Homo sapiens: one gene and its partners. The protein of the gene in region 1 interacts with the protein of each later gene in a pairwise test. Each region holds a gene or a part of one and is shown in the gene's direction. Other genes may lie near its edges.

Region 1 (7,888 bases):
GGCAAAGATGGGATAGAAAAGTTCTTTACTCAATTTTTGAAAATTGATTGTCTGAATCCCCACATTTGTAAGGTTTTATAGGAAAACAAAAGTTATAACTTGAAGATATTCAGTAAGGAAACTGACCACTTAACATTAGTCACCACATATCCTTTCCTGCTTAATGTTGCCATGTATCCCCACTCATGTCAACAATAGAGATTGCTAAATAGTACTTTGGCCAATATAATGCAAATATAATACAGATTGGTTTCAAAATGGAATTTAAAATTTTGAAAAACATAGAGAATTTCATGAAATTGATAAAAATAGTAAGAGGACTATTCAATCATATGCAGAGCCACAAAGTGAGGCCACTTAATAACTGAAGAATAGAAAATCAGGGAGGATTATTATAGGATAAGCTCTTCAGAGAATAATTTTAATATAAAATTTTTTAATAGAACTTGGAGGTAGAGGAATACATGAAACATTCAAATAAAATTACCCTCTTTATGATAAATATGGTAATAACAACCTAGAAGTGAAAAATATATCACACTTAAATATAATTTTTGTCAAGACATTTTAGCTCACCCAAGTGAAAACTCAGTTCAGTCTAAGAATTAGAATATAGTTATGACTATTGACTAAATTTTGTTAAATGTAATATGAAATAAACTTGTTTTCATTTCTTTTTTCAAGATAAAGTTCTAATGAAATCTTTTTTTTTCTGCTGTTTATCATTTAGTTTGAGGTAGAATCACTTAAAATAGACTTTTTCAGGCAATTTAGTGTGGTAGTAAGAAAGCTAACTCGAGCAAAAAACTGAGTTGCAGTCTAATCTACTACTTAATACTTAGGTGCCATTAGGCAAGTTATTTTACATTTTATTATTCACCTGTAAAAGGAATAATAATGGTCCTTATTTTATAGAGTTATGATGATTAATTGATCTAATACATAAAAATCACTTAAGATAGTGCTTGGCACATAGTACACAAAGAAGTCATTTTTTGATGTATTAATTGTCTTTGGATATAGACAGTTAAATTATCATTATCTTGTCTTTGTTTTCCATTTTTCTGAGCTCAGTTTTTATTGAGAAGCCCGAGGCCTTAACATCCTCATTTTCAGCTTTCAAAATCAAAAACAGTGTTATACCAAAAATACTAGGAATTAACTAGGAGAAAGTTTTAAAAACTGTGTTCTCTAAGTCTATAATAAAATGTTAGTAAACTGTATACATTTTTCTGTTTTTATCTCTGAAAAAAATTCAGTACCTGTGCTTATTTTTAAAAATTACTATTTTAATGTTCTCAGGCACATATCTGGCTCAGACCTCTTTCTCAGTGCAAGTTACATCTATAACCATTATTGTGACTGCAAAGACCAACATTATTACCTTTCTGGGGATAAAATCAATGATGTGATCTGCCTTCCAGTGGAAAGATTATCTCGTATCACACCTGTATTGGCCTGCCAGGACAGAGTGCTCAGAGTTTTACAGGTTGCTGTTATTTGTATTTTTCTAATTTTTTATATTATGTGAAAGAATATCAATGAACATTATGTACTTGAGATAAATTAGTGGTTACTGTTTTAAGGGCTTTTATAAACATGTGGAAACAATTTTTAAATAATTTGACATATTAATTTTTTTAACTTGAGTCAAATGTGTTGTTTTGTAAGTTTTTAAGAGAAGCATATTTGGAAGAAAAAGGATTTTTTTTGCCTCACCATACACAATTTCTGAGCTATTATCAGAATGGAGTACTTTGACTACAGAGAACCTTTACCTGCCTTTTTGTTTTGTTTTCTTCTTCCATCACCTTTATCTTCCCCAAAAATCAAATTAAAGGAAGAAATTGGGTTGGAGGGAGGATGTTATATAACTTGAGTTTATCCAGTGTTTATGGAAGTATATGGAATAAGCACTCAGTAAATATATGTTGGATAAGTAAATGAGTGATAGAGGGAAAATTCATTTTGATGTCCTTATATTTCTGGTAAAAACCACGATTGGCTAAAACAACTGCTTCAGGTCATTGTTATGAGTAATAATAGTTACCACTATATCTTCTTGAGAGTGACTTTCAATAAAATATATGCACACACACACACACACACACTCTATAGGATGCTTAAAATAATGTTTAAAGGTAAATAGCATGTAACAGTTAGATGAACTGTATCAGAAACAGGCTGATATAGTTGGTGCAGTTGATGAAAAAGTTGAGCTGTGAAGTCCATGCCACCACAGGCTATCTCACTCTTTGGAATTCCATAGTCAGATGGCCATTTCTTGGCATCAGCCCTTTTGTAAAAGGAAAAATCCAGTGAGTCTATGAGGTTTTTACCCCCCAGGGACAAAGTAATGTTAAAGGTTCATTTTAGGCCAGGCATGGTGGCTCACACCTGTAATTCCAGCACTTTTGGAGGCTGAGACGGGAAGATCATTTGAGGCCAGGAGTTTGAGACCAGCCTGGCCAACATGGTGAAACCCTGTCTCTACTAAAAATACAAAATTAGCTGGGTGCAGTAGCACACACCTGTAATCCCAGTTACTCAGGAGGCTGAAGCACAAGAATCACTCGAACCCAGGAGGCGGAGGTTGCGGTGAGCTGAAATTGCATCACTGCACTCCAGCCTGGGCAACAGAGGGAGACTCCATCTCAAAAAAAAAAAAAAAAGAAAAGAAAAAAGGTTCATTTTAGAGTTATGAATGATTAATTTCCCCCATAGCCTATGCTTTTAAATATGAATTGTTTTGAACAAGGCTTTTAACAGGAGCTGTTTAGCATTCAATTAGAAATTGACTGAATTCTAGGATTCTGCTTTGACAAGAGATCCATATGCTTATTATTTTTAAAATAATTACTAAAGATCTGTAGAAAATAAAGTTGAAGTCTTTCCCTCTGCACCGCATGCTTTTTTCTCACTCCCCGTCTATCTCTGTGAATAATCCATTACTCCAGAGGTTGCCTCTTTTTAACAGTTTTGTGTATATTCTTTTGTGTTTATATAGTTACGTGTAGATATCTGTAAATTTTAATATGATATTTTAAATAAAAGATAAAACAGGCTGGGCACAGCGGCTCAGGCCTATTACCCCAGCACTTTGGGAGGCCGAGGTTGGAGGATCACTTGACTCCAGGAATTCAAGACCAGCCTGGGCAACATAGCGAGACCCCCATCTCTTAAAAAAAATTTAGCTGGGCATGGTGGTGCATGCCAGTAGTCCCAGCTACTCAGGAAGCTGAGGTGGGAACATCATTTGAGCCCAGAAGGTCGAGGCTGCGGTAAGCTATGATCACACCACTGCACTGCACTCCAGCCTGGATGACAGAGTCAGATCCTGGCTCAAAAAAAAAAAAAAAGATAAAGCATATGGCTTTCTTACGTTTTCTAAATAAACATTAAACTTTTTTTAGTCCTGATGTGGTGGCTCACGCCTGTAATCCCAGCACTGTGGGAGGCTGAGGCAGATGGATCACCTGAGGTCAGGAGTTCAAGACCAGTCTGGCCAACATGGTGAAACTTTGTCTCTACTAAAAATACAAAACTTAGCCAGGCATGGTGGCCTGCACCTGTAATCCAGCTACTCGGGCAGCTGAGACAGGAGAATCACTTAAACCCGGAAGGTGGAGGTTGCAGCGAGCTGAGGTCACAGCATTGCATTTCAGCCTGGGCAACAAAGCAAGATTCCATCTCAAAAAAAAAAAAACATTAAAACAAAAATGTCATACCATATTAACTATAATTTTGCAAATTGTGTTTTCTTTTTTTTTTGAGATGGAGTCTTGCTCTGTCGCCCAGGCTGGAGTAGTGGTGCAATCTTGGCTCACTGCGACCTCTGCTTCCCGGGTTCAAGCAATTCTCCTCCTTTAGCCTCCTGAGTAGCTGGGATTACAGGCATGCACCACCACACCTGGCTAATTTTGTATTTTTAGTAGAGACGGTTTCACCATGTTGGTCAGGCTGGTCTTGAACTCCTGACCTGATGATCCACCCGTCTTGGCCTCCGGAAGTGCTGGGATTACAGGCATAAGCCACCACACCCCATTTTGCAAATTTTGTATTCATTGAATTATAGATCATGGATATTTTTTCCATGTGAGTATAAGTACTTCTAACTCATTCTTTAACAGCATCACAAATACTGTGCCCAAAATGACAAGCATTACAAGTAGCAAAATTGAAAAACTGATAAATATATAAGGACCTAACTTGTTTTTTTATCTAAGTAGCAGGTCATTCAGCCTCTGACTGGAGCAGATTTTGGGAATACCCAAAGGCAAGGCCAAAATTTTCCTTAGGAAGTAACTTTGTGTCTGTTAAAATATTTGGATGTATTCCAAGTTAAAGACTTCCAGTTAACCTAGAGAGGGCAGAGGGAATAATTTGTTCCTAGAGACTTGATAGGAAAATCTGCCAGTGTCAAGTTTTCAGGCAAACAATGTATTTAAAATGTATTAAAGGTAGAGAATATTTTAAATGTTTTCTTCTTGGTCTTTACATTTTATATATATATATATACACACATATATATGTACATATACATATACACATGTACATGTACACATATATACATATATACACATACATGTATGTACATATATGTACATATACATATATACACATACATGTGCATATATGTATACATATGTGTATATATGTATACATGTGTGTACATATCTGTATATATACGTATATATGTATACATTTATACGTATATATGTGTATATATGTTGTTTTCAAATCAGTTGATATATGCAAAATTGCTAACAAATGCAAGTTGTATTCGTAACCTAATTTTTAAAGCAATTTTATTCTAGGTGTTACTAAGAGTACTGTATTTGAATATTGATGTTATTCATGAATGCCTCTATTATTTTCAGTTTGTATTCTGTTTCAGTTTTTAAATACTTCTCCTTCAGGGATCTGATGTGATGTATGCAGTTGAAGTTCCTGGACCCCCTACTGTCTTAGCACTACACAATGGAAATGGCGGTAATCAGGATTTTATTTTTCACAAATCAACTATGTGTTTTAATAGTAAGTGAAAATGGGAAATTGTAGAAAGGACATAAACTAGAATTGAGACAGTTGTCTTTCTGGTAACTTGCCAGTAACTAACAGCACGAGTTATTGAACTTTTAATTCTCCGTTTTTTTCTTTTTTGGGGGGCTGGGGGGCAGGGTCTCACTCTGTCTCCCAGGCTGGCGTGCAGTGGTACAATCTCAGCTCACCACGGCCTCGACCTCCCAGGCTCAAGGGATCCTCCCACCTCAGCCTCCCTAGTACTACAGGCGCACACCACCATGCCCGGCTAGGTTTTTGGTATTTTTTATAGAGACAGGGTTTCGCCATGTTGCCCAGGTTAGTCTGGAACTCCTGGGCTCAAGGGATCCTCTCACCTCAGTCTCCCAAAGTGCTGGGATTACAGGCATGAGCCACGGCACCCAACCTAGTTTCTTCATCTTAAAATTATATAATGGGGAAATGTCTTATCTCTTATAGCTATAAAATTGTGTGAATATATAACCATTCTCAACAATTAAGTTTTATATCTTTTTATAGTACTTTTTAAAATGATATTTTTACATAACAACATTTTAATTTTAAAGAGATTACTAATTGTAGGATAAATATAATATGTTGACTTTAATTATAAGTAGGTGACTCTGGAGAAGACCTTTTGTTTGGGACATCAGACGGAAAACTTGCGCTTATACAGATTACTACATCCAAACCAGTACGCAAGTGGGAAATTCAAAATGAGAAAAAGAGAGGAGGTATGCTTTTCATGTAGTTCAGATTCTGAGGTGTCAATGATTATTAAGTATCTTAAATTATATAATTTATTCTATTTTATCTATTTATACTACATAGCAGACTTAGCAATTCACACCTTGATTTATCTACTATTTGTTTATTTGTCAGGTCTATTATACTATTGGCATAATTTTTTAAAAGTAAGAAATGCTGATAGTAATTTGGTATTGATACGTTTTTATAGGCTAATATCATTTTATGCTAAAATCCAATTTTAATTGGATTTTAATTGTCTGAGGTAATTTAGTTGTTTGAGGTACAGAATTAATTGGAATCTGGGAGTCTTTGTTATGAGGCAAAGAAGAAGTGCAGTGGGTCAGAGAATATTCCTGTTTTCTAAGGAATTTATACCTTTCTAAGGAGAATTTATAACTGATTAGGTAGATAGTGAGATGCCTATGTATATGTTCAGGATGTTCATATATTCATTTATTCCTTCAACAAATACTTATTAGGAGAGACAGAGTAAAAACAAATAAATACATAAGACAGCTTTACCTAGTCACCTGAAGAAAATAAAACAGGGCTGTGTATTAGAGAGTGATGGTAGAAGGAGGAGGGTCACTTTTAGACCACGTAGTCAAAGATAGCCTCTTAGAAGAGGTGAAATTTGAACTGAGATCTGATTGATAAGAAAAAGAGTTAGCAATATGAAGATTTGGGGAAAAAAATGTTTCAGGAAGAGGAAAAAGTAAGTGTGAAAGATTTGAGGTGGAGGTAGATTTGATTCATTTGAGGAACAGTAGGAAGGTCAGTCAGTTTGGCTAAATGCGTTAACATGGCAGGAGATGGAGTCAGAGAGGTAGAGTAGAGCCAAATTGTGTAAGCCTTGGAAAACAGTTTGAATTTTAATCTAGGTGCTGTAGGAAGTCATTAGAAAATTGTCAGTGGGAGTGTGACACTTAATTTACTAAGCCTAAACAAAACAAAGGACACTGGAGAATGGATTGGAGGGGGCGGGGGGCAACAGGTCAAAACTGGAAGCATGGAGACCAGTTAGAAGAGTTATTATAATTTATTCTAGTCTAGGCTAGCTTAGTCTAGGCTATCAGTAGCTGGAAACATAGACAATTTCAGTATATATTGTGGAGGTAGAGAAGATGGAATTTGCTAGCAGTTTTGATATGAGGGGTGGTGAGAAAAAGAAAGAAATCAGATGTGGCCCAGAATTTTTGTCTGAGCAGCTAGGTAGAATAATTTATGGAGATGGGGGAAGACAGAGGGAGGAGCAGTATTGAGGGGGTATGGTAAAGAGGGGAATAAAGAGTTTTGTTTGGGGTATGGAAAGTTTTAGATGCAGATGTCTGTGAGAAGATACCAAATTGAATATATAAGTCTGGAGCTTTGGCCAGAGCTGGAGGGAGATATAAATGTAGGGGCCGTTCTCACACAGATTATATTTAAAGACCTGGAAATAGATGAATGTGGATGGACAAGAGAAGAGCACTTGATTTTGGTCAAAGTTTTTTTGCTCACCATTCTGAGTCGGTATGTGTGTTTTTTTCATTCTTACTTGGCATATACTTGACCATAACTATTAGTCTTCTTAATAACTTATCACATATCTCTTTTTAAAGGTATTTTGTGTATTGACAGCTTTGACATTGTGGGTGATGGGGTTAAAGATTTACTTGTTGGGAGAGATGACGGAATGGTGGAAGTGTATAGTTTTGATAATGCAAATGAACCTGTTCTACGATTTGATCAGGTAAGTTCATTAAAAAAGACTATATGCTTATTATTTGTCAAATTATTATAGAGATGACAGATGGTTTGAATTTTATTAAGTGAAAATATATTAAAATCTTGTGTTTGGTTTAAAATATTGCTATTTTGATGTTATCAGAATCTTCTCTAGACTTCTCTTGTGTTTGAATAATAGACTCTTGCCTTTAAGCAGGATAACAAATTACTTTTTCATTATACTTTAAAATATTATTATAAGTCTCTAAAGTATTAAATATTTTGCCTTAGTTTATAACATATAATGACACTTTATGGGAGTAATATTTATATGTTTGGTTAATATAAGTAAGTCTGTTGTTTTAAAATAATAAGATTTTAGGAATAA
Region 2 (7,888 bases), on another chromosome or scaffold:
ACATTTGTGCTAACGTGGTACAGACCTTTAATCCCACTGTAGAAGTTTAACTCCCTGTAAACAGTATTAGTTTGAATTATCATTTTCACTGTTATTCTGGTTGAGTCAGCATACCCAGATTGAAGAAAATAGTTTAGTAATAGGCAGTAAACAGAAAAATGGAGGTCACTTAGGTGATTTTTTTCATTAAAAAAAGAGAATTAGTAATACATTGCATTTTATAGTGCTTTGTAAAGAATCTTCATGTTTATCATGCAATTTAACAAATATATTTTGAGCAACTACAATGAGCAGGGTGCTCATAGATGGCATTTGAGTTACCTGGCAAAGAGACAACCAGAACAGTTATTATCACCATTTAATCCATAGTAAACTGAGACTCAGGAAGCTGCCTGACTTGCCTGAGGTTCCAGCTAGATTAGGCAGAGCTGGTTCTTAAAACTAGGTCTGTCTGATCTGCTAGCAGCAAACCTCTACATAAATGTGTCAGATGTTTATGAATAAGTAATGTCCATGGTGTAATCACCCACAGCGTAAGGTACTCTGGGGTGTCATCAAGGACATTAGGAGTCATCCAAAGGCCATTTTTTTCATCAAGCTCACTCTTTCCCTTGAATGGAAAGGAGTACTGCCCCTTATCTCAACTTGATGCCTTATTAGCTATTTGTCCTTGGATAAATAATTTACACTCTCTTATATTCTTTCCTAATCTATTAAATGGGAGGGGAAAAGAGCCCAACCACCTTCTGGGATTATTTTCAAGAAAAATTATATAGTGCATGTAAAGCCATTAGCAGAGTGCTTGACAATACATGATCACTTGTTGTTATTATTATTATTGGGCTGATTTTCCCTTTTGTTTCATTAAGAAAATATCTTTCTTTCTTGGTAATTGTCAACTCCTTTGTACAAATGCCTAAACTGAGAGAGAAAGTTTGCACCTTGCTCTGAAGATCACACCCAGGTTGGCTTTTTTCAGCATGATGATCTGGAGGCCAGGTCCAAAGCTAAAAGTCTTTGACTCCAATATTACAGCTAATATATAAACAGGGCAAACATGCTCTGCTGGTGGCTGGGACATAATGGGCCTTAGAAGGTCATCTTCTCTAGAAATTGTTGCCCACTAGCTTGTCCTATTACCCCAGTAACAGCATTGCAGTTTCATTCTTTTGGGGTAAGACAAGAACCTCTGTTGAAATGGAGAGGCAACAATGAGATCATCAGTTATACCTTCTCATGAATTAGCTCAGTGGCTACTGACTTTTTATATCAAGGGACAGAGTACTGACAGCCTACCCTGAAGGGATGCAGAAAATGTGGAGAAATATATTTGTCATGAGGACAGGACTGGATAGGGACTCTGCTTCATCCTAGCTGGGACCTTGAACAAGTCAGTTAGCTTCTCTACGTCTTAGCTTGCTCATTAATTAATGAAGATAATACCTGCTATAATTACCTCATTGCCAATGGATCAGATGAGACCTGAGGTGTCCCTGGGCTTCCGGGAAGTAATATGTAGACATGGAGCATCCACCCTGTGCTGAGTGTATTGGAGGGAGAGAAGATTAGAGAAAGGAGGAGACCCTGGCATTGGATAGGAAGCTACCCAAGATAATCTTCATTACCATTTTTTCTTTGGTAGCCCAACCTATGCAAAAAGCACTCTTTGTAACACCCAAAGTGAGGGCTCTTTGAGCTTGCATTTTCAAGATTAACCCAAAGTGGCATCCGAACAGGGGCAACGATCTCCTTCAGAGCACAACCACTGTGGAGGCTGCTTGGTTAGGGGGTCTTCAAGCCAGAGTCTCCCCTTGCTAAAGCAGTGAAGCTGGAGCAGGGACTGCCATACAACTTTAGCATCCTCATAGGCAGTGAGAAACCCAAGCCCAGAGGCACTTAGGAAACATCCTCTCTGGTCTGCCCCAAGTGGTTTCATAGAGGGTTGAATATAAGGAAAAGGAAACTTGCACCCAACCCTCTGTAGCCCGAGGCCAAATGGAAGTTAGCTTTAAGACTATGTATAGATTTCTCCTTTCAAGTTTGTTTCCTGGAGAATAATCTGTTGGAACTACAGACTAACAGAGCAAAGCAGAGGATAACTGCAGAGGTCAAGAGCGACATTGTCCTGGCCTCAAGCCATTAAGGAAATCCAGTGGCACCAGGAGTCCACAGAATAGAGAGACAGTCCATTACTGCAGTCCCCTCTATTAGTCATATTTTAGTGGGTCACTAATTAGCTGGTTCAGTGTTTTGATTAGTGATTCCAAAGGCCTGCTGGAAAGCATTCTGTCTAGGATCACCATGAACATTCAGTAACCCACCTTCATTCATTGCAGCTAATTGCAACTAATAAGTGATGGGGGAAAAACAAACCTCATTTGCTTATCCACCTGTGGAAATGGGTCAGAGGTGTCACAGAGGTCTGCACAGCATGTCTGCACCCCCAACTGTCTTGGTCATGCATCCATCTGAGCCACCCATGGTTCTGTGCACAACTCTCGCACACTCTTTTCCAGACCTGTCACCATGGCCCACCGATTTCCAGCCCTCACCCAGGAGCAGAAGAAGGAGCTCTCAGAAATTGCCCAGAGCATTGTTGCCAATGGAAAGGGGATCCTGGCTGCAGATGAATCTGTAGGTGAGTGTAAAAAGCAGTCTCATCATATAACAACATATTATTTTTTCTACACTTAGCAAAAACAACTTGATAATCATATTCTTTATGGAAGTAAAGGTTTATGTACACGGGAGTGGGAGCAGAAGACTCAGTAAGCGTAGAGCTTTTGAGTCCTGTAAGTAGTAGGCACATTCCTGAAAGCCAAGGAAAGAGGCTCAAGCCCTTCATTTTAAGCCAGGGGTCATTTGAATCCAGCCTTGTAGTAAGGCCAGAAACTTAGTAACTAGCATAAGGTCAGATACACAGGCATCTGCTACTAGTGAGAAGTCAGTTTAAAGTCAGTTTAAATTCAGTTGAGTCAAGAAGGGCAGGAAAGTATCTGCATCTGGAATAGGACAGGGCTTATGGATGGGAGAACCTCAGGATGGCACAAGGGAGAGCTGTGGCAGAGTTGCACAGCCTGCCATAAAATCACAGAACCCTGAGAATCAAGAGCATGCCCCATCCCTCCTTCTGCATGTACATCCAGCAAGACTGAGGACCAGATCAGGGAGGCTAGAGAGGCCTGAGGGCCTTCCATATCCACCTGGACCTGAGGGTGGCTTCCACCCTGACCTCTATATGCCCAGCCCACATACTCCCTAACTAGCCACCTGAGAGCAACCAGGGTCTTCTCCCTGGAACACAAAAAATTGAAGCAGGAGCTTTGACTATCTGAAAAAAGAAAGTCTTGCTTTCCACTGTGGTGAGGGTCTCTGAGATGATGTGGAGAAGGGTGACAGGAAAGCCCTGGCTTGCTCCTTATGCTGCCCTTGGCCCTCCCACCATAGGTACCATGGGGAACCGCCTGCAGAGGATCAAGGTGGAAAACACTGAAGAGAACCGCCGGCAGTTCCGAGAAATCCTCTTCTCTGTGGACAGTTCCATCAACCAGAGCATCGGGGGTGTGATCCTTTTCCACGAGACCCTCTACCAGAAGGACAGCCAGGGAAAGCTGTTCAGAAACATCCTCAAGGAAAAGGGGATCGTGGTGGGAATCAAGGTGAACACCTCCATTCACACCTCACTTCTGCTTTGTCCTAGGCAAACTCCAAGCACACTGGCAAGGACAGGGCCAACACTCTGAACATTCTCCTCATCAAATTTCTCTTCTCACCCTTTTCCATCGTCATCTTCCCACAGAGAACAAGATCCTCTTCTAGAGTTTTCCTCCAGTGCCCTCTTCTTTCACTCAAATTTTCTACACGTTCTTAATCTCTTTGCATCTCAATCTCATTTCTTAAAATGGGAATCTACCTCATGATGTTCTTACAGGGATGAAATGACTAAAAGTTTCTAGGCTGGACGTGGTTGCTTACTGCTGTAATCCCAGCACTTTGGAAGGCAGAGGCAAGAGGATCGCTTGAGCTCAGGAGTTTGAGACCAGACTGAGCAACACAGTGGGACCTTGTCTCTACTAAAAATCAAAAACATTAGCCAGATGTGTTGGTGCATGCCTGTAGTCCCAGCTACTCAGGAGGCTGACGTGGAAAGATTGATCACCTGAGCCCTGGAGGTCGAAGCTGGAGTGAGCTATGGTCATACCACTGCACTCCAGCCTGGATGACCCTGTCTCAAAAAAAAAAAGAGTAAGATCCTGTCTAAAAAAAAAAAAAAAGAAAGAAAAAAGAAAAGAAAAAGTTTATATTGCGTAATTATTGTTAATGGTAACTATCATAATTATTGAAGCATTTACTATTCTATCTTATAACTAGGTCTTCCAATAGTGCATAAACTTCTCAAAAGTGAAAACTAGTATCCATTGAATAAGAGTTTTTACCATTCCAAGCATTCATTTAATTCTCATAACCTCTGGTAGTAGACTCAATTATTACCCTTATTTAGAGATGAAGTGAGAAAACTGAACTACGAAGAGTAACATAACTTGCCCACACAACAAGGCAAGGTCAGAGCCAGTTTAGGCTAATTCTCAAGCTCATGACTTTTGCCTTTGCTATGTAGAGAGTAGAGGTTGTATCCTTAATTCTCTTTACCTCCTGTACTAACACAACACCTGGTGCATGCAGGTGCTCAATAAATGTTAGGGTAGACACTCTCACAGTGTACCTTCTAGGTAACTTCCCTTCTGCTATGGACTGAACTGGGTCCCTCGCACTAATACACTTTACTAATTCAACTCCTTGATCTGTAAAAGATGCAAACTGTTAGTTAGTTCAAGAGTTCTGCTTGTGTTTTCCTGACATCTGACACCTGTTAATTATTTGTATCCACAGTTAGACCAAGGAGGTGCTCCTCTTGCAGGAACAAACAAAGAAACCACCATTCAAGGTAAGGATATTGCCCACTGAGATGAATCATGCCAGTGTAAGCTAGAAATGAAGGCAAGTAAAGAAGGAAGCAAGGAAAAACAAAACACAACTATTACACTGGTCTTAGAGCCACACGTACCTGGTTTTCAATACCAGCTCCTCCATTTAACAACTGTGACCTTGGGCCAGTCACTGAAATATTGTGAGCCTCAGTTCTCCTATCTCAAAATGGGGATTTCTCAAAATGTTGTGGGGATTAACTTAGACAATGTACATAAGGTGCTTACCACAGTACCTTGGACAAAGAAGATTAAACTCTGCACCCGGAAGTATTATTTTTAGAAAAAAATTAGCAGCAGTAGAGTGGAAAGTCCCCACACTTTGAGGTCAGACACACCTGGGTTTGAATCCTGGTTCTATCACATGCTACCTAGATAATTTTGCAAGGTACTTCTGCCCAAGTAGACAAGCATTAACTCACAACATTGGGTTAGCTAAGCAGAATTTGAATCCCAGCTCTGTCACTCTTGAGCAATTCAAACTTGGTAAAGTTGCTTAACCATTAGGAGCTTCAGTTTCCACCTTTGTAAAATGAGTATCATATTAACTATTGGTTTCTTCTATTCTATATATGGAGTAGATAGTATGTATGTCAAAACACTATTTATTAAATCTAAGTCTTCTGGTTCAGTGTTGTGATTAATGCTGATATGCTTGGCTGTTTTCAATCCTCAAGCACAGTGGATTGAAAGCTAAGCAAAGGGAGAACTCCTTCCCTTTATTAGAAGCCCCATGGATCAGGTACAAAGGTACAAAGAAGCCTTTCTCTCTTTTGTGACTTGCAGGGCTTGATGGCCTCTCAGAGCGCTGTGCTCAGTACAAGAAAGATGGTGTTGACTTTGGGAAGTGGCGTGCTGTGCTGAGGATTGCCGACCAGTGTCCATCCAGCCTCGCTATCCAGGAAAACGCCAACGCCCTGGCTCGCTACGCCAGCATCTGTCAGCAGGTGCTCTGCCTTCCCCTTGGGCTGAAAAAGAGTAGGCTAGAGTTTTCTTCAGAGCTTTTCTTTTCAATTATACTATAACTACAAATGGACCTCCTTTTCCCTCACCAGTATATCCTAGTGGCATTTTTCACAACTTTTGCTATAGCCAACTGTGGTAGGGAAAGATTTGGTCCCACAAGCCAGTAGGAGTCCAACTAAGCTATGAGTTCAAAGGATAATGCCATCAACTGCTGCCCTCTGTCAAAGCTCCATAAGCTGTCTTATAAGTGATCGGGCTTTTGAGGGCAGGGAACTTGGTTGTCTATACTCCGTAACATCCAAGACATGATCCTCTTAGATTCCTAGCTGAAGAGTGACAGCTCTGACCGAGTTCCAATCCAAATAATTCTTTGGAGGATGGTGACCAGATGCTAAAGTTTCCAACACATACTAAAATGTCTCTGGGTCCGAGTTAAGTTTGATTTTCTTCTGTGAGTACTATGTTGGGGTTACTAGAGTTGTGGACAGCTGGAGATCCCCAATTAGAACTCTAAACACTGCTTGAATTTCTTCATTAACCCAACTTAGAGACATCTTTCTTAATGATTTATGCTTAGATGCCCTAAAAAGGCAGTAGCTAGGTTCTGAGGCAGCTAGAATAATCTCTAGAAAGAAATACAGTAATTACGGGTTTGTATTTATTTTTTATCTCATTCTGAAAAATTCTACTGTCTTTAAGTCATCTATGTAGTATTTCTCCATAATGGCTTCAATTTATACCAATTGCAACTGTTGAATCTCCTCCTAAGGAAAGGATAACAGTGAGCACAGCTTCACTTTTGCTTCCTTGATTTTCCTTTTTAGAATGGACTGGTACCTATTGTTGAACCAGAGGTAATTCCTGATGGAGACCATGACCTGGAACACTGCCAGTATGTTACTGAGAAGGTAAGTTTTAAATATGAAGGCCCCAATTCTAGTTGAAAAATCTTAGTTTTAGGTAACAGCTGTTACTTAACATATAACAGCTGTTATATCTGAAGTAGCCTTTAGGATGGATAGCATAGAGAAGGTAGGGAGGTGCTCATCAGCCCTTCACCTTTTTGGCACATGGTATACTCCATATAGAAAAAGCACAGGAGTTGCAGTACCAAGACTTGGGTTGGAGAATCCGCTTTTCCACTTGTGGGATCTTGGGCAAGTCATATTATCTCTTTTGACTTCAATTCAATTACATGTACACAAAGAAATTTTAAAATAAGACATGTGGCTCAAATGAGAAGATGTAATTAGAAAGTACTTTATTCCATCTGACTTTCTAAATTAGCCACAGTGGATCTGAAAGAGGGTGGTTCTATTCATACACTGTGAGAAAGTAGGAGAGTCATAATGTCACCTGACCTTAGTTTCTCTACTTGGAAAATTATGTGGACTGAAATGCAATCTAAGAGCACTTCCACCTCTAAAATGTATGATTCTATGACTACTCAGCTTCTGTAAACATGGACAGTGGAGGCCCGTTTAGATGACCCCAAATAGCTAAAGCAATGCAGTCTCAATAAGGAATGACATTGACCAAGGGAGTAATGGAAATAAAGGAATGAAGGGCTTCTAGGAAGCAGAGCCATGCCTGTCATTCATGCAGTGAATGAGAAGCTAGATTAGGGGTGATGAAGACAGGCCAGTTTAGTTGTGCTCAGTGGCTATGGATTGCAACACATTGGTCTAATGAGGCCTGGAGATTGGTTCAGAAGCTTTTGCCAAGCAACAAATAAGAATTCCTTCATCCTGCCTCCCTGCAGTGTAAATGTGCCAAGGTCAAGTGGCTCTATGACTAGCTTTGAGTTTCACCTGGTGGGACCTCTTGTCCTTCAGGTCCTGGCTGCTGTCTACAAGGCCCTGAATGACCATCATGTTTACCTGGAGGGCACCCTGCTAAAGCCCAACATGGTGACTGCTGGACATGCCTGCACCAAG
Region 3 (8,803 bases), on another chromosome or scaffold:
CTCACTCTGTCGCCCAGGCTGGAGGCAGCGGCGCGATCTCGGCTCACCGCAACCTCCGCCTCTTCGGTTCAAGCAATTCTCTGTCTCAGCCTTCCAAGAAGCTGGATTACGGGCTCCCGCCACCACGACCGCTAATTTTTGTATTTTCAGTAGAGACAAGGTTTCACCATCTTGAACAGGCTGGTCTTGAATTGCTGACTTTCGTGATCCATCCTCCTCAGCCTCCCAAAGTGCTGGGATTACAGGCGTGAGGCACGGTGCCCGACCTATTATTTACCTTTTCGTGGACATGTCCTATTAGATTGTAATTTTTTAAAGCATAGTACTCATACTTTAATTTCTCCACATAGTGGCTCTAGCACAGTGCTTTTAATGTAATGGATACAGAAGAGATCTTGTAGTTCATTCAGGTTCATATTGTTCACTCTTCTCTGAATCACTTCTAAACTTATTTTAAGTATATATAAAGTGTCAAATTATGTGTAAAATACTTGTTTTCTAATTATTTTCTGTGGCTCAGATTCATCTCTACTTCAAAACTCTCAATCTCTTTAGGTTAGACTGCCATTTTCCTTTCATACTTTTCACCGGTATACTTCTGTTCTCATAGACAGCATCCATTATTAATATTTGACAATAAAGAATTTTTTATGATAAATATTTAAAACCTTAGAAATGACATCCCAGAATAAAACTATGGCCCTCTGACTTCTAATATTTTTCTCACAGTAACACAAAGGGAAATACTGGAAGGTATGGTTGTCATTTAACTACAGCTAAATGATGCTTTAGAGAGGCCAGCAGGGTAACCCAGGCAGTCAAGCTGACCAGTGGGAATCATAGTCACACGGAGGATGAATAAACCCAATCTCATAACTCTGCTCCACCCAACTGCTGCCAAGAGAAGATATGGGATCAATGTTGCCAGCTTATCATCTGATTTTTAAAGATAAGCTGAAAATCTAGATTTTTTATATAAAAGGTCCTGAATGTTAGGTATTTGCAACTAACTCAAGATAAAACAACAATGGTGTGGACCAAACAAAGCACTTCTAAAGTCAAGCTCAGCCTATATGCTATTAATCTATAACCTCTGTTTTAGTGTTTATGAAGTGATTTTTTTCTTTACAATATACTATCAATTTTAATCTTCACAAAAAAAATTTTGGGTTGAACATTTTGCCCACCTTTTACTAATGGAGAACTCCTCTAAAGTAATGAAGTCAATAAATGATGAAGTCAGGAACTCAAGCCACATAATTTATCTCCTCATATTATATAGCCTGTTTGTCTTACATCCACAGATCTTAACTTGTATGTATGTGTATGGGGAGCAGTATTAGGAGATGAGAGACAATCATAAATCCATCCCTATGAAAACCTGATGAAAATTATAGACCAATCATTGATCCTCTCCACAGAAAAATACATATATGAACATACATATCAAATACTGTACAATCCCAAGGGGTTCACAGGTCCCTGAAGACTACATAGATGCCTATAGTATATGAGATTATCTGCAAGAGACAAATGTATGCAAAATATCTTTAGCTTTACTTAATGATAAACATGAATTCATAATCAATAAATCTGCCAAAACTATTCTGAATCTATTTACATTTCTAATTATTCTACTGTTAGGATTAATAAACTCTACTCTTTATTACCCATTATATCAAGCAGTGTTGTCTTTTGTCCTCACACACTTTTTTAAAAGTATATAACTTCCGAGTTTCAAGTGGTTGAGTTCCAGAATTAAAGAATTTGCTGATTAATCTCATATTCATACTTTCTGTATGCTTCTAAATGTCAAACATATTCTCTTCCAAGTTGCTATGATTCCAGACTAAATAGTTCATTTCTCAGTTCTCCTTGGTTTGGAAACCCTACCACCAACTTTACCATTTATTTATTCTCTCTGGATTTCTTTCATCTATGCAATTTTTTCAGGTTTACAATGGAATTACTTATTATATTGCATGAAGAGTAGAAAACCATTTTCTACTTTGTATTTAATACCTTTTCTGCCAATGTTTATCGCTTTTCTGATTATTTTAACTGTAACATCACATAATGCCAATATTTTCATAAGAATCCACAATTATTATCATCAGTTTATTTTCCGGGATTTGAATGAATTCAACCAACTCCAAAACCCACACTGCTCATTAGCTCATCATTTAAGGACACAAAAAAGTGGTGTCATTTACAAACTTAGGATTTCACAATTCATTGCCTTATCTGGATATAAATAGTAAAACTAGTACTACTCCCAATTCAAAATTGATTCTAGTAGGTCCTGTTATTGAAACTCTTCTACCCGGTAAAGCACCTGTTGCTAAGCATTCAGCTTATCGTTGATAGAACATCCCATGCCCTTCCTACCACATGCCAGACTATCTTTTTGATAGTTTTTATTGCTAAACTCTGATAAATGCTGTTTCAAAGTCTGACTAAATTACATTCATTAGCACCCCTCGTACACATATGAATATAACTCTTCAACATTAATGGTGACTACTATTTATTCTCTACCCTGTGGCAAATATTGTTCCAGGTTGTTTATGCTATCTTATTTAATCCTTACACAAACCATGAAATGTAAATATTACTATTATCTTTTAGCCATAAGAAAACTGAGGTTGAGAGCTTAGAGAATGTTCCCAAAGTCACATTATATATATAGGTGGTGGAGACCAGGATTCACATCCGGGTTTGCCTGAAGTCTTATATCAGACAGGCAGAATTGCTCCTGTAAATAAAGGCAGAATATTACTTTCTCTCCAATGACATTGGCTTGAGGGTTGGTTATAAATTAGGTCCCCCTTATCTGCATGAACATCAGCTTCATACTATTCTACAATTTTCAAACCTCACTCTGAGTTCTTAAGAGTGAGGATTACATTGGAAATGAACCTGTCCTCAAGAATAATAAACAGTTTTATTTAAATAAATCTAAAATGATTCTGTGCCATTACCACACCTGCTTCAACAACAACAATAAAAGAAAATAAGGACTGAAAACTTTTCTAATAGTTCTGTCTTCCACAGGACTAAGTGTGTATTCAAACATGTATGTTTGTTTATTTATTATTGTCATTATTGTTGTTTTGCTTATTTTTGTTTATTTTCATTCTGGTAGCTGGATCATCTGATCCTCTGACTTTCAAGATACTGGCATTTTCAGAACCTTTATAAATGAAAGGCTGTGAAGGACCTGCAAGATTATTTTCAAAGGCAATTTTTTATTCATTTAAATTGGGATTTGTGCCCTACATAAGAGAATATATACCCAAATCATATAGAAATATATTCTTAAGCAAATTTTTATAATCTTAAGCCCTTGTAACTTGAAAAATTAATATTAAGACTATTGCATACCTGAGAAGGAAGAGAAAAGGAGAGAGTAGATACTATTTGAGAAAAAGGCATGGAAAAACCAGATAAAGACGCATATCACACTTCCGGAAAATGGGACTGAAGAGAGAGAAACTGCAGAGCCAGCACAGCACCATCTCATCGTGGGGAGCTCTGGATGAGAAAGTATATGATAAAGAAGAATAAACAAGGGACACTGTTGAAGAGTTTCTGTTCACAAATATCTCACCCATTTATTCTACCAATTGGATGTTAATTTTGCTTTAAAAAAACCCTTTTAGTAAATATATTCTTGCAGGGTTAAAACCAGTGGTTCTTCATACCTTTACTTTGAGTAACTATAACTAAATTGTCTACAACTTAAATAAACTTTTGGGAGAATGTATGCTTTAATTAGTTGTTTTGATTGAACCATGGAACATTTCAGAGTAAAAACCATAAAGGTCTCTAAACAACCCGAGAACAGAATGACTGAGAAAGGCGGAATGATGAGATATTAAGGAAGGGCAAGGCTGGGGAAAGGAAGTGAAAAAATACTTACAGTTTTACCACAGAAAAATGAGAAGTTATAATTCAGTGATCTTGAAGTTTCCTTCCCGCTCTACAATTCTATGACAGTTGTTATGCAAAAAACGAATGTCTTACACATAAAAACTTATATGCTATATTTTCCTTCCTGGAATCTATATCATCCAACTGCTAAAGCAAAAGAGCTCCTTTTTCTACTCCAACAACATAAAAGAGAATAATTTATTAAAACTAGTTCCAGAGGACATAAAGAAAACCAAAGGGTAGAAATCATAGGGAGGTAAGCATCTTCCAAATAAAGAAATTAATAACACACCCTCGAATACTTTGATAATCAGTATTTGATAACTGAGTGAAATCTGGGGTCCAAAGAGATATACAGATCATTGGGATGGTTGAGAATTTCTCCCTTTGCAAAGAACACACCAAATAAGAACCCTCATCTGCCAGAGGTGAGAAAAAGTGATGAAAAGAGAGAATATTGCCCCACCAGCCTCAAGGCATTCAAGTTCCCCGGCATTCGGTCCTTAGTCCCTTCCCATTTGTCACCTTATTATTTTCCTGTCCACCCCTGCATCATCCACCTGTCACGTCTGTCTCCACAGTCACCTCTACAGACTTTTTTCACACTTTCCCTTCCTGTCTGCTGGTCTCAACGCTCTCTGTCCAGGGTTTACCCACATTTGCTCTACTCCGATTCCTTCCACCGACCCCCTAAGACTCCGAGCAGGTTAGAGGATCGCGCTGCCTCCCCCCTCCCCGCCCCGTAGTCTCCAACAGTGTAAGGGGTACTGTGGGAACAAAACCCAGAGGGGTTTGTGCCTCTTCACCCCCATCCCGGGAGGCTCCCCCTCTATCCCCGGATGGTCCTCACTCACAGCGCACAGTGTGGAAGGCGCAGCGCGGCTGCTTCTCGAAACTCTCCCCTAACTTGAGAACCCGCTCGCGACGGTCTAGGTGTGAGAATCCCGCTGCGCTATTCATAATTACTCTCCTGCTTTGACTTTAACTCCGCCACCAGCGCTCACTATCTGCCACCTCAGCCTGAAGCAGCTGCACTTGATCCCGCCAGCCAAGTCACCCAGACTCCACCCCGCGCTCGACGCGCACCGCCCCACCGGAGCGTCTCACGTTCTGATTGGCTTATTAGCAAAGGGCGCTCCGCCCCTTGACTCCGAGGCTCCTAGTCCCGCCTCCAGGCCCCTTCCCGCGTCGCGACGCACGCTGCCCCGGAAGGCCGCGGCGCTGTAGTGCGGCGTGGGAGCCCCAGGTTCTTTAGTGGAAGAACGCGAAGCGAGGATGAGGTAACTTATCTGAGGTGGTGGCTGGGGAGGGAGAGGGCCCCAGGGCGCCTACCAGGAGGCCAGGACCCCAGGCTCCTGGACGAAGTCAGCCGGCTTGTAAGAGCTCTTAACGGGAGAATCGGCCTGCCCTCACGCCCACTCTGTAGAGATCTGGTGTGGAAACTGAGGCCTGGGGAGGTGCAGTGTCCAGGCACAGGGCCTAGTGTCTTATCCAAGGCCTGGTAGCGCGAAAGCCGGGTCTAGAATCTGGAGTAAAGGAGCCCAGAGGCCCCAGAATCTCGGTCCTTAGACTTGAAGCGACGCTGTTACCTCAGTAATCGTTTTCTGACCTTTTTGTACCAGAGGAAGTTTCTTGTGGTCCTAGGACTGGAGAAGGGGATGTGTAGTGGGGAGGAGAAAGAGGATTCGGAGATAGCAACTGCAGACATTTAGGATCAGCCGCAACAGGATCGCACTGAATTTCCTTTTCATTTATTTTCCTCACAGTGATCCGTGGAGGCAGTAACAGGCGCGGCGAGGGAGAAGTGATTCCCGAAGAATCAAGGCTGGGCCGGACCCGGTGGCCTGGCAACAGGGTAGTAGCCTTAAAATAGATAAATAATTGTCTTTTTGTGTCAAATTTCATGAATTTAATGTAAAGATGGGAGAAGTGTTGAATTATAGGAGAAACACTCGAGAAAGTTTACAGATGGTTTCCATAACAGGTGGTTTTTCAGGGTAATTACGCAATCCAACTGCACTCCCTCACCTTCTGCCTTAGGCACATTTGTCAATTGATTTTGGGGTAGGTGGTTATGTCTCCTTCAACCTGTCTGTGTAAATCCTACCCTTTGAAGGTGTGCCGAAGCTGTTTCATATCGTAGTTAAATGCTTTAAGGCAGATGGTGGCTCTAGTTTGAACCCCTGCTTTATACTTAACAGTGTGACTTTGTGCCAGCTAATTACATTCTCCAGAGTTTAAGTATGCTCATTGTTCAAATTGGGAAAAAAATAATAGTATCTGTTCCTTAGAGTTGTTGGAATGATTAAATGAGTTAATACATGAAAGCAATTAGAACAATTCCTGGAGCATGATAAGAGGTCTCCAAATGGTTATTTAAGGCCCAGCTCTACACTTATACTACATTTTAAGACCATCTTGGTGGCTGCCTTCTCTTCTAAATAGAATCATTCTAGGAGGTAGGAATTGCTATTTTGTTTACAGCAAGAAAAATGGTTCAGAGAAGCCCAGTCCTCTGACTTTATGGCCTGTATTCTTATCTGTGTCATCTATTTAGCATTTAACATATATCTGATATTCTTAAGTATATTTTTTTGTATCTGTGTGTGTGTACACATGTACATAAACATACTTTTCTTTCCCAACCAGAACAATAGCAGAGAGTATGTCTTGTGTAGAATCTTTGCATCCCCTGCATCTACCATACTGCTCTGCACATATTTGTTGATGACAATAATGATTTAGTGATGTTTTATTACGGTAGCCAGGAGGGCACAAACTGTTTTGAGCCTATTTTACGTTAGAGAGGCTTCCAACTATAAATCTGAGCTTTCTCTATTGTAACAAGAGAAAAACAGAAAGTCAAGAAATTGAGGCTCAGAATGCCTGAGGTTTGTGCATTTACTCATACTTTCAACCTGTATTTAGCAAATCCTAGTACGTGCCAGGTACTAGTCTAGCCACTGGGAATACAGTTGTGAACCAAAGATATAAGAAGGCAGCCAGCAAAGATGGTCTTAAAATGTAGTATGATGGTAGAACTGGGCTTTAATAATAACCATTTGGAGAGCTCTTACTATGTGCCAGGAATTGTTCCAATTGCTTTCATGTATTAACTCATTTAATCATCTCTAAGGGATAGGTAGGTTGCCCTCATGAAGCTTACCTTCTGAGGTGAATTTTCTCCAAACATATATTAAAATGAACTATGTTGTACTAGCTCAAGAATAGACAAACAGATTAAATTACTAGAAACTAAGTAGAGTCCAAAAAGATACCCTGTGTATGTGTATGTATACATAGTGCATGAAAATGTGACGTTTCAGATTGTTTCTGTTATGTCTATTCATAACTAGTTACCTTATGAATTTATGACTACTGTGTGCATTTTTTAATCCATCAATAACTTTAACATTAAAAATTAGATTCTTATATGACACCATTCACAAAAATACCTTACTTTAGAAGATATGTAAGGAAAACAAAACCAAAAAAACATGAAGATTTGGAGAATGTTTTTTATCTCTTGGGTTAGAGAGGACCTTTCTAAACAGGACACAAAAGACAGATGCCATAGAGGAAAAGATTGTTATATTTCATATGTAAAAATTGTAAAAATGGCTGGGCGCTGTGGCTCATGCCTGTAATCCCAGCACTTTGGGAGGCCGAAGTGGGCAGACCACTTGAGGTCATGAGTTCAAGACCAGCCTGGCCAACATGGTGAAACCCCATCTCTACTAAAAATACAAAAATTAGCTGGGCACGTTGGCACACGCCTGTAATCCCAGCTACTTGGGAGGCTGAGGCATGAAATCACTTGAACCCAGGAGGTGGAGGATGCAGTGAGCTGAGATTGCACCACTGCACTGCAGCCAGGGTAAACAGAGTCAGACTCTCTCTCAAAAAAAAAAAAAAAAATTGTAAAATTATGGTAAAGACCCCATAGTCAAATTTAAAAAAATAAATGACAAGGAGAAAATTTTACAGCCAATATAAAAGAGAAAAGATTCCTATCCATGTATGAAAAGCTTCTGCAAAAGAATAAGACAAACCGATAGAAATATAGTCAAGGGATATGAATAGAAAATACATAAAAGAAATAATGGCCAGTGAACACGAAATGTGCCTGACATCCCTAATAATCAAAGAAATACAAATTAAAACACAATCATACCAATTTTCATCTAACAGATTGGCAAAAATGTAAAGGATCATGTGTATATTCATTGCAGTGTTGCTTGTAATAGCATACAGCTTGAGTGACCTCCAGTAGAGGTGATGTTTAAATATATTTTGCTGCATTCTTAAAAGGAAATGTAGCATAATGCAGCCATTTGGAGAGAATGAGATAACTATATGCACTCTCTTTGAAAGTTTTGTGACTACTATGTGCCGGGAGTTGCACTGGGCTTTCTTTAAGGTATTTTCAGCAAACCTGTCTTTTAATGATTTATATTGTACCTAATAAGAGATATATGAATGGAAAAACAGTTTTTGCTCTCACATCATGACAATCAACACAAAAGACTTCTGTGACCAAATGTGTGGAGTTTTCTTCCACCAACAAGCAAGCAATCAATTCTGCAGCGGACACCAGCTGGGTATCATCTAATTCAATTCTGACACTGTCTACTTGGAGATAGGGTCAGATCCCTTAGGTTTAGGGCTTAGTCCTGCAAGAGGGACCCCCATTTCTGATGCCAATCCAAGCCCTAAGTTGTTTTACCTGTGCTTCTGACTGACCAGCTACACATGAGGAATCCTATTAATACACACCTTGGGGTGTATTAATTTGCTAGAGGAGCTAACAAAACTGAGGGAAACATGTTTTCCAGTTTATTATAAAGATATTACAGAGACCCTGGGCAAC
Region 4 (8,565 bases), 870 kb from region 1:
GGCCTCCCAAAGTGCTGCGATTATAGGTGTGAGCCACTGTGCCCAGCCACAAACCAATAAATTTTAAAATCCAATGGAAAAATAGGCAAAGGACTTTGTTAGACAATACACAAAAAGGAATAGACAAATAGAGTCTAAACATGTGAAAAAACACTCAATGCCTCTCATAAGAGAAATGAGCATGAAAAATGTATGATTTGCAACTTGCCAGACTGACAGAAATCAAAAAAGTTTGATAATACTTTGGGCATTTTCATATAGTATTTTTGGAAATGTAATTTGGCAAAAATCTTTTTAGAAGGCAATATCTATCAAAAATAAAAATATTTAAATTAAAATGCATATTGATTTTAACCCAATCACTTCATTTGTGACAATTAATTGTACAGGTATTCCCAAATTAAACATATGTATAAGGATATTAATTTAAGCAAAACGTTGGAAACTAAAATGTCTCCCATTAGAAGACTGTCAAATATAATAATTGATATAATGAATTATATGGCCATTCCATTCCATTAGAATGGAATATTATACAGATATTTTATTTGTATTGTTATGCAACTATTTCTCAAGTTATGTAACTATTTCTCAAATATATACACAATGTGTATAATATGCTATCATTTGTGAAAAAACTATTCTGTATACATATGTATATGAATATGCATTCTCTGTAATGATTCATTAAAAAGTGGCAAAAATCTTTGTCTTTAGGAAGAACTGGGGCTTGGATAGGAAGGAGACTTTTATTCAGAACTTTTGGAACTTGTTCATGTATACTTTTAACCATTTGAAGGCTAACATTTTCACATATGAAGCACATTTAATAGGCAAGTTTTTCCCTGGTCTAGAAGAAATGTTACATAATTAGAAATCAAAGACACTGTGAAAACACTTGAGAATGCTCATGAGCACATACAATTCTAGTTTCAATCAAATAAAACCTCTTGTGTTGACAAGACAAAATTAAAACCTTCAGTTTTCATTTCAGTTGTGCTAAAAATGAACCAGGTAGTGTCACTATAGTTAATTTTCTATGAGTCTTTCTTGCTCCAAAGACAACTTGGTTATCAGAAAGTGTTTGTGTGGAGCAAGTGGCATCTGTTGCCTATTTGTCAGGAGCAGAAGTCTGAGCACTTCTGTCCACTGCATCTTGTTTCAAAGTCGCCAAGGAAAACAATGCAGTGAAACACTGGGTGGAACACACATTACTCACATACAGAAGAGACAGAGCAAGATCAGCTTCCCTAGTGGACTTCAGTCTCCCATGACCAGAGGGTCCCTCTTGGCAGCTGACACAGGGCAGGTGGCCTGCAAACACTCCTCTTGTGCTGAAGGACCCCCATCCCCTCCCCCACAGGAGACAGAGCAGTGGGGTTGGTCAGATGCCATATGATGCACACACTTAAGCAGGGCAAAGGACTACACATTGACTCTGAAACAGAGGAAGATATTACTATACGGGGTGGTAAGTTCAGCACAGGCTCTGTGGACTCCTAGTCTCTTCAAAAGAAGTGTTCCAGGCCCAAGGCCCACTCTCAAACAACTGAGTAGGAGTTAAAAGACTGTATGTATGAGATTCCGTTTCCCAACAGTTTGGCTCTTTCACAAGGAAGAAATCACAAGAGTCACAGAATTGAAAATGAGTTAGAAAATACACAGTTATCTTGAAAGTTTTATCCATAGGGAAGCAGCATAATGAAGAATAAGAACTTAAGATTTGGAATCCATGTTTTATTTCTTATCAATGGGCAACTGGGGAATTTTTAAAACTTCTCTGAACTTTAGTTTTCTTGTATGTAAAATGGAGCTAATACAATCAGCTTCCAACTTGTAATATGTTTACTGAGGTTAACACATAAAATCTCGGCCAGGCACGGTGGCTCACCCCTGTAATCCCAGCAGTTTGGGAGGCTGAGGTAGGCAGATCATGAGGTCAGGAGATTGAGACCATCATGGCTAACACAGTGAAACTCCGTCTCTACTAAAAATGCAAAAAATTAGCTAGGCATGGTGGCAGGTACCTGTAGTCCCAGCTACTCGGGAGGCTGAGGCAGGAGAATCTCTTGAGCCCAGGAGGCAGAGGTTGCATTGAGCCGAGATCGCACCACTGCACTCCAGCCTGGGTGACAGAGGGAGATTTTGTCTCAAAAAATATATAAATAAAATTTTTTAAAAATAAAACTCTACACCACCTGTCCTAGCACAGAGGTATTAAGTGCTCACTATAGAGTCAAACTTACAGGGAAATATGGGTGATGTAAGTGCTATTTTGAATTTTCTTTATAACTAAAAGAAGAAAATTAGCAAATAATGTTTCCAGACAGTTCTATTTAATACTTTATGTATTTGAGTAACTGACTAAAAAGCAAATGTTCATCAGGTTTTTTTGGGTTGCACAAAAGGAAAATATAAGTTTTGTTTGCCAAATTCATTTGGATGTGAAGCCAACTTCATCAAACTTTAAAATTCTAAGTCTTTGTGACCTAAGGTTCTCAAAAGAGCAGCTAGAATCAATACTGTTCTTGGATTAATGGCTCAAAGAAGTCATTATGTTTTGTTTCTTGATGCTGTAGATTTAACATCATATTGGTAGAGATGTGTAACTTCTTACATGGATTAGACATCAAGAAGCCAATGTGTACATATAAACTAAAAACTGAAAATGAATACATTCAGATATTAAATTATAAAACTGCATAACAAATACAAATTTGTTAATTTTCCACAAGGACTAAAACAACGCTATTAATAACGAGTAGTCTTTTTCATCACTCTCAAAACATCTTCCTCGTTTATTTCTCCATCTCTATCATGATCAGCTTCATCAAGCATTTCCTGTAAAACAAAATGTAAATATATGAAATACATTTAAAATGACATAAATGAAGTCAAACACATATTCAAAACCAAATTTTATTTTAAATGCATAAGTGCAACTAAAGTTAGAATTATAATCCTAAATTATCACATAAGTTATAATTACATATAAATTATAATTATAAAAATAAGCAAAATCTACCTGAAGTTCATCATGTTAAATTTTCCCCTGGTTTCTTAGCAAACCTCTTGATACCGGTTAGTATTATACTTCCAGTATCATCATCATCAAATAATTTGAAAGTCTTCAATATTTCTTCTTTTTCATCTTTTTTACTCTTTTAAAAAAGAAGCAACTATCCAGTCTTTCATTTATTTATTTTATCAAGCTGGACTTAATTAGATCTTTGGGGTCTAAAGCAGCAATGTGCCAAGTAGCTGTGTTCTGATTTTATTTATTGGTCTTTTAACAATTATGTACTCACACCTGCCCTCAAGGTGCTTAAAGGTAGAGCTTGCTAAGGTGGAGAAGGCACAGGGTGGTCCAGAATGCATCTCTTATTAAACCTCATAATTCAGATCCGTTACCAAAAATGTAAGCTTCAAAATGGAAGGTTGTATCTTTCAATGCTCCTTAGAATAGTGCCTGGCAAAAATAGGCATTCAATATATGTTGCTGAATTAAAGGCTTCCAAATTCTGGCCCCATTCTCTCTATCCTGCAATATAGCCTCATTATTTCCTGACAAAAACCTCTTCTCCACATCATAGTCTTCTCATTACTACCCTGAAAACATATTTAATCTTGCTCTTCCTATCTCCCATCCTTAAAAACCTAGTTCTAATTGCTTCTCTATAAAACTTCTGATTGCTCCAGCCCTAAAATGTAGCAGGTTATTGCTAGTATTTCTTTGAAAAATAAAATCATAACTATATCATTTTTATACTCATAATGGCAAAAAAAAATCTTCAAAACTAATGGTGCCAATTCCTTCTTTATCAACTTCAGCTACCATTTTTTAAATTTCTTCTTTCTTTGGTTCAAATCCTAAGGCCCACACTGCAATCTGAAATAGGAAGAAAAGGAATTATAATATGCCATGATTTCTTTCTAAGCTTTTTAACTCCCTATTAAGAGCTTCTCTCTTTTCTATTATGGACTGAGCATAAACAGAAAATTAGGTCAGCAGGCCTGTGTTTCAGTCCTACTGTGCCATCATGTACATCACTGTTACACCCTGGGCTTTTGCCTACTCATTTATAAAACACAATTAAAATGCTTAACAAGATATCGTTTTGCTAATGCAGGGCAGGCATATGCACTGAAGAGACTTTATATTAAGCTTTCAGAAGACTACTTTTAAAGAAAGCCTTAAAGATTGCCACAAATAATATGGTTTTTAAAATGATTTAGAATTAGAAATAATTTCAGAACCTTCTTTTACATCGATGGTTCCAGACCCATCAATATCAAATAAATTAAAGGCGTCTTTAATTTCTTGCTTTTGGGATTCATTCAGTTCAATTTTTGCTGCTCTTTTCTTCCATTGGTCTGAACTTGTATGGTAGTTAGATGCCTGTAATACACACACATATGGGTGAAAGATAAATTATATAACTGGAATAGTTAGCAGAACCAGAATAATTGATGATAAACTATATTAAAGTACCTATTTCCTACTATAAAATGAATCTCAACAGGAGTAAGGAAGGAGTGCAGTTGCTGCCAGGGGCAGCCTTCCTTGCTCTGGCGGAAAAACTTCGGCCCCGGCCCCAGCAGAAGGTTACAGCTTCACACTCACCAGGTCCCCAGCCGGCAGCCGGCGCTCTCAGCCGGGACCTCCCGGCGTCACCTCCCGCAGCCCCGCCCAACCCAAGTCTTCACAGCTCACTGGCGGTTGCTAAGGCCGCTCTCACCGACCTCTCTCAGCCCCGCCCACCCAGCCTGAGTTATTGACATCCAGTTCATCCAATGGACAGAAAAAAAGGCCTTTAAACCAGCCCTTTCTCTCTACTCCCTACCAATAGCGTGACGTCCCCGCCTTTCGCAGCCCGGCGTTAAGCGGAACTTCTCTCTCCAGCTGTGTCTCTTAGCAACTAAGCCCCCGGCTCCTCCAGAAGCCCCTCTTCGCACATGCGCAAACTGCGGACGGGGAACTGGGCTCCCTAGCCCTGGCGTTTTTGGTGTTGCTGTCCCAGCCAGAATCGCGTCTGGCCGGTGGGAAGCCGGGAACTCCAGCCCCCTGTAGGAGAGGAGAAAGGAGCGAGGTTAGTAGTGAGGTGCTTCCGCTGACTGCTAAGCTAAGTCTTTCCTGAAGACGTGGGAGCCCGTGTGTTTGATTTTTCTGTCCTCTTCGGGCCAGGGAAAGAATGAGAATCTAGGGCCTGGAGGTCCTGGGGTGAATTGGTCCAGCATGTGGCTAGGAGTACTAGAGGAAGAGGGGACTGCCCTTTCTTTTTGCCGCTAGACTTTCCTCATTTTCTACAGTGCCTGGAGCTGGGCCTTCAGCCATTTACCTCCTCCCTGTTTTGGGCAGGGATTCTGGCATGGTAGACACCAGAATTCTGTATAGCAGTGGCATGGGGTAACAGTGTCGTTGGAGGGACGTGGGTATTGGGATAAGCATGGGTCTTGGGATGTATTTAAAGCTTCACTACATACATAGATAAACGTTTTTACATGTTTCGTGTAGCATTTGTTTACGAGGTAGGACTTTGGCCCCACCCATAATTACTATCGGACCCCGCCCTCCAACCCCAACACACACACACACACACACACACACACACACACACACACACACACACATCCAGCCATTTCCTTGGCCCAGTCCTAAGATTTGGCCAGTTGTCAACGATATCAACTTGATCTGCACTTCAGAGTCAGACACAGGTAGTCTGATTATCCAGTTGATTCAGTAACGGCCTAGATTTAGATACTTGTGAAACTTTTGTAAACCAACTCAATCTCTTGTCCAGAGGGCCAGATTTACTGCTTCTGCCCGTTCTGAATTTGGCCAGGAATCAGCTTAAAGGACAGGGGAGAAAGACTGAGGTAGGATGGACCACTGACTTCCTGGTGGGAATGAAGGAATGAGAGAATCTTAAAACTTCTAACCTTTAATTGCTCACACATGCGGACCCCTTTTATGCCTCCTACAATGTCTTCTCTAGAGGAAATATTTTCTAAAAATTATACTGGATTCTTCAAAAATGGATTCAGGAAGAATACTAACTTTAGTCTTTTTTTTTTTTTTTTTTTTTTTGTCTCACTTATCTTCCTGAAGGCAGGAGAGGAAAACAAGTGCAAAGTGCATTCTTGAAGCACTCTGTCAAATCACTTTTCATGCTTCATTGAGTAGAAACATGGCACATTTTCCAAAGCCATCAGCCTGTCTTGTTCATATTATATCCCAGACAGACACGCAAGTATTGTAATCATTGATAAAAATCTCATTAGGCTTCTGGAAAATAGGTAAGTTTATCCTCATATTGCAGGTGATTTTTCCATATAAAGTTACCCAGTGAAAATTAAAATGGCACAAATCCAAGATAATTTTTGAGTTAAGTAAAATGTGGTCACTTTAATATATGATTTTTCACGTCATTTATCTCACTTGGAAAGTTGCTCTTGATCAGTTTCAAGGTCATACACTTTTTTTTTTTTGAGACCGAGTCCTGCTCTGTCGCCCAGGCTGGAGTGCAGTGGCTCAATCCCGGCTCACTGCAAGCTCCACCTCCCGGGTTCTCGCCGTTCTTCTGCCTCAGCCTCCCGAATAGCTGGGAGTACAGGCGCCCGCCACCGCGCCCGGCTAATTTTTTTGTATTTTTAGTAGAGACGGAGTTTCACCGTATTAGCCAGGATGGTCTCCATCTCCTGACTTCATGATCCGCTCGCCTCGGCCTCTCAAAGTGCTGGGATTACAGGCGTGAGCAACTGCGCCCGGCCATATACTTCATTTTTAATACTAATATTAAAAGGATTTCTTAGACCCAGAAATGAATAGTGACCAAGTATATACTCAACCCAATCCTAATTTCGAGGATCTCTTGGATCATGTTTGATCTAATGACAATTAAATGGCGGAGTAGTATATTAACCTATTTTTATATCACTATGATTTAGGCTTTTATATTTGGAATATTTACTGCTAGTTAAAATGTTTTTTTAATTGTAGGCTCAGATTCCAACTCCCAGATCTTGAATAGGATGTAATTAGTTTTGAAAACTAGCTATTAACGAATCTAACTGCACTTTAGAACATTAATCATCATCATTATCCAGGAAAACATTAAACACATAGGCACTCTTAAATCTCCCAAATGTATTTAATGTTTTCTATATGTCATGCACTATGCCAACTACTGGGTGAGTTCGAAAGAAATAAAAATAGAATATAAAAGATGAATAACTAAGGAATCTACAGATTAGTGGGGGAGCTAGACACAAACATAATACAATGTTTTTAATACAGGGTATTTTTAATCTGCTTTGGTAGATGGGTATAGAAAGTGCGTTGGGAGCACAGAAAGGAGGGACAACTCTACCCCAGGGCATTAGAGAAGTCCTGATAGGAAATGAGGCATTTGCGTTGGGTCATGAAAGATCTATAGCATCTATGGAGATGAAGAAAATATAGACTATTCAAATCAGTATAGCTTAGTGAAAATAAATATGTTCTAGCGTGACAAGATCATGAGGTTTATAAGGAAAGGTGGGAGAAGAGTCATAAATTAGGTTGAGGTTAGATTATAAGGCACATATATCAAGCCAAGGAGTAAAGACTTTCTTTTTTAAGATAAATAGATGTTTTTTGGCAGTGGAGTAATCTGTTTAGGTTTGTGCTTTTTCAGTGCTAATTCTGACCACCATATGAAGGAGGAACTCTCATTAGAAGCAATTAAAGGGCCTCAACTAAGGCGGTGCCAAATAGGAATCAAGTCAACTCCAAGGATGGTTAAAACTTATATTCATGTTGGAGAAATACTAAAAGTACCGTCTGTTTTCTCTTGCTTCAGTTTTGTACTTAAATTTGGGGGAACAAATATGGTGAAAAAAATTCATTCACTTACCAAATATTTATAGAGTACTTGCTGTGTGTCAGGCAATATTGTAGGTACTCGGGATATACATCATTGACTAAAATTGCCTTCCTGGAAATTACATTCTAAGAGAGAGATGTAGTCTATAAAAAATAAATAAGTAAACTATATCCTATTTTATAAGGGAATAAGTGTTATGGGAAAAAGAAAGTATAACAGATGGAACAAATCCAGAGTACAGAGGGAAAAGAGGATTTGTGGTATTCTATAGAGTGCTCAGGGTAGGCCTCATTGAAAAGCAGAAAATTTGAGAAAATATTTGAAGGTGATGCAGCAATAGATTTCTTAGGGAAGAGCATTCCAGAAAGAGGGAACAACTAGAACAGAAACATTAAGATAGGGAACATGCAAAGCATTACAAAAAGAGGCCAGAACAAAGTGGCCAAGGGATAAAATAGTAAGTGATAAAGTCAGAAGGGTAAAGAAAGGACTGCAAATAGTTAGGGCATTGTAAGGACTTTGACTTCGACTCCAAGTGAAATGGGTAGGCCTTGCAAGATTTTGAGCCTAGGAGTGAAAGGATATGAGTTCATTTTTAAAAGGGACTCCTGTGTCAAAGGCATAAAGCTTTATTTTCTGAGTTAGAGGTTTTTAAACAGTAGAGTGACATGATTAGACTTCTGTATTGGGAATAGACTGG

Evidence for each region.
Region 2: the proteins of BBS7 (region 1) and ALDOB interact in binary tests that used the Homo sapiens proteins (3 or more experiments, as listed by UniProt).
Region 3: the proteins of BBS7 (region 1) and IQCB1 interact in binary tests that used the Homo sapiens proteins (3 or more experiments, as listed by UniProt).
Region 4: the proteins of BBS7 (region 1) and BBS12 interact in binary tests that used the Homo sapiens proteins (3 or more experiments, as listed by UniProt).

Annotation. Positions count from the first base shown.
Region 1 is NC_000004.12:121,852,593-121,860,480, reverse strand, and holds part of BBS7 (BBSome complex member BBS7), read left to right. Parts: intron 1-1,302; coding exon 1,303-1,489; intron 1,490-4,919; coding exon 4,920-4,992; coding exon of another isoform or gene 4,993-5,037; intron 5,038-5,657; coding exon of another isoform or gene 5,658-5,660; coding exon 5,661-5,777; intron 5,778-7,394; coding exon 7,395-7,525; intron 7,526-7,888.
Region 2 is NC_000009.12:101,425,526-101,433,413, reverse strand, and holds part of ALDOB (fructose-bisphosphate aldolase B), read left to right. Parts: intron 1-2,516; 5' UTR 2,517-2,526; coding exon 2,527-2,638; intron 2,639-3,447; coding exon 3,448-3,659; intron 3,660-4,890; coding exon 4,891-4,945; intron 4,946-5,771; coding exon 5,772-5,932; intron 5,933-6,775; coding exon 6,776-6,859; intron 6,860-7,786; coding exon 7,787-7,888. UniProt on the Homo sapiens protein: Catalyzes the aldol cleavage of fructose 1,6-biphosphate to form two triosephosphates dihydroxyacetone phosphate and D-glyceraldehyde 3-phosphate in glycolysis as well as the reverse stereospecific aldol addition reaction in gluconeogenesis.
Region 3 is NC_000003.12:121,831,376-121,840,178, reverse strand, and holds the start of IQCB1 (IQ calmodulin-binding motif-containing protein 1), read left to right. Parts: upstream 1-5,118; 5' UTR 5,119-5,213; intron 5,214-5,699; 5' UTR 5,700-5,788; intron 5,789-8,803. Other genes in the region: EAF2 (ELL-associated factor 2), read right to left, coding at 3,385-3,523. UniProt on the Homo sapiens protein: Involved in ciliogenesis. The function in an early step in cilia formation depends on its association with CEP290/NPHP6.
Region 4 is NC_000004.12:122,727,795-122,736,359, forward strand, and holds the start of BBS12 (chaperonin-containing T-complex member BBS12), read left to right. Parts: upstream 1-4,909; 5' UTR 4,910-5,090; intron 5,091-6,109; exon of another isoform or gene 6,110-6,297; intron 6,298-8,565. UniProt on the Homo sapiens protein: Component of the chaperonin-containing T-complex (TRiC), a molecular chaperone complex that assists the folding of proteins upon ATP hydrolysis.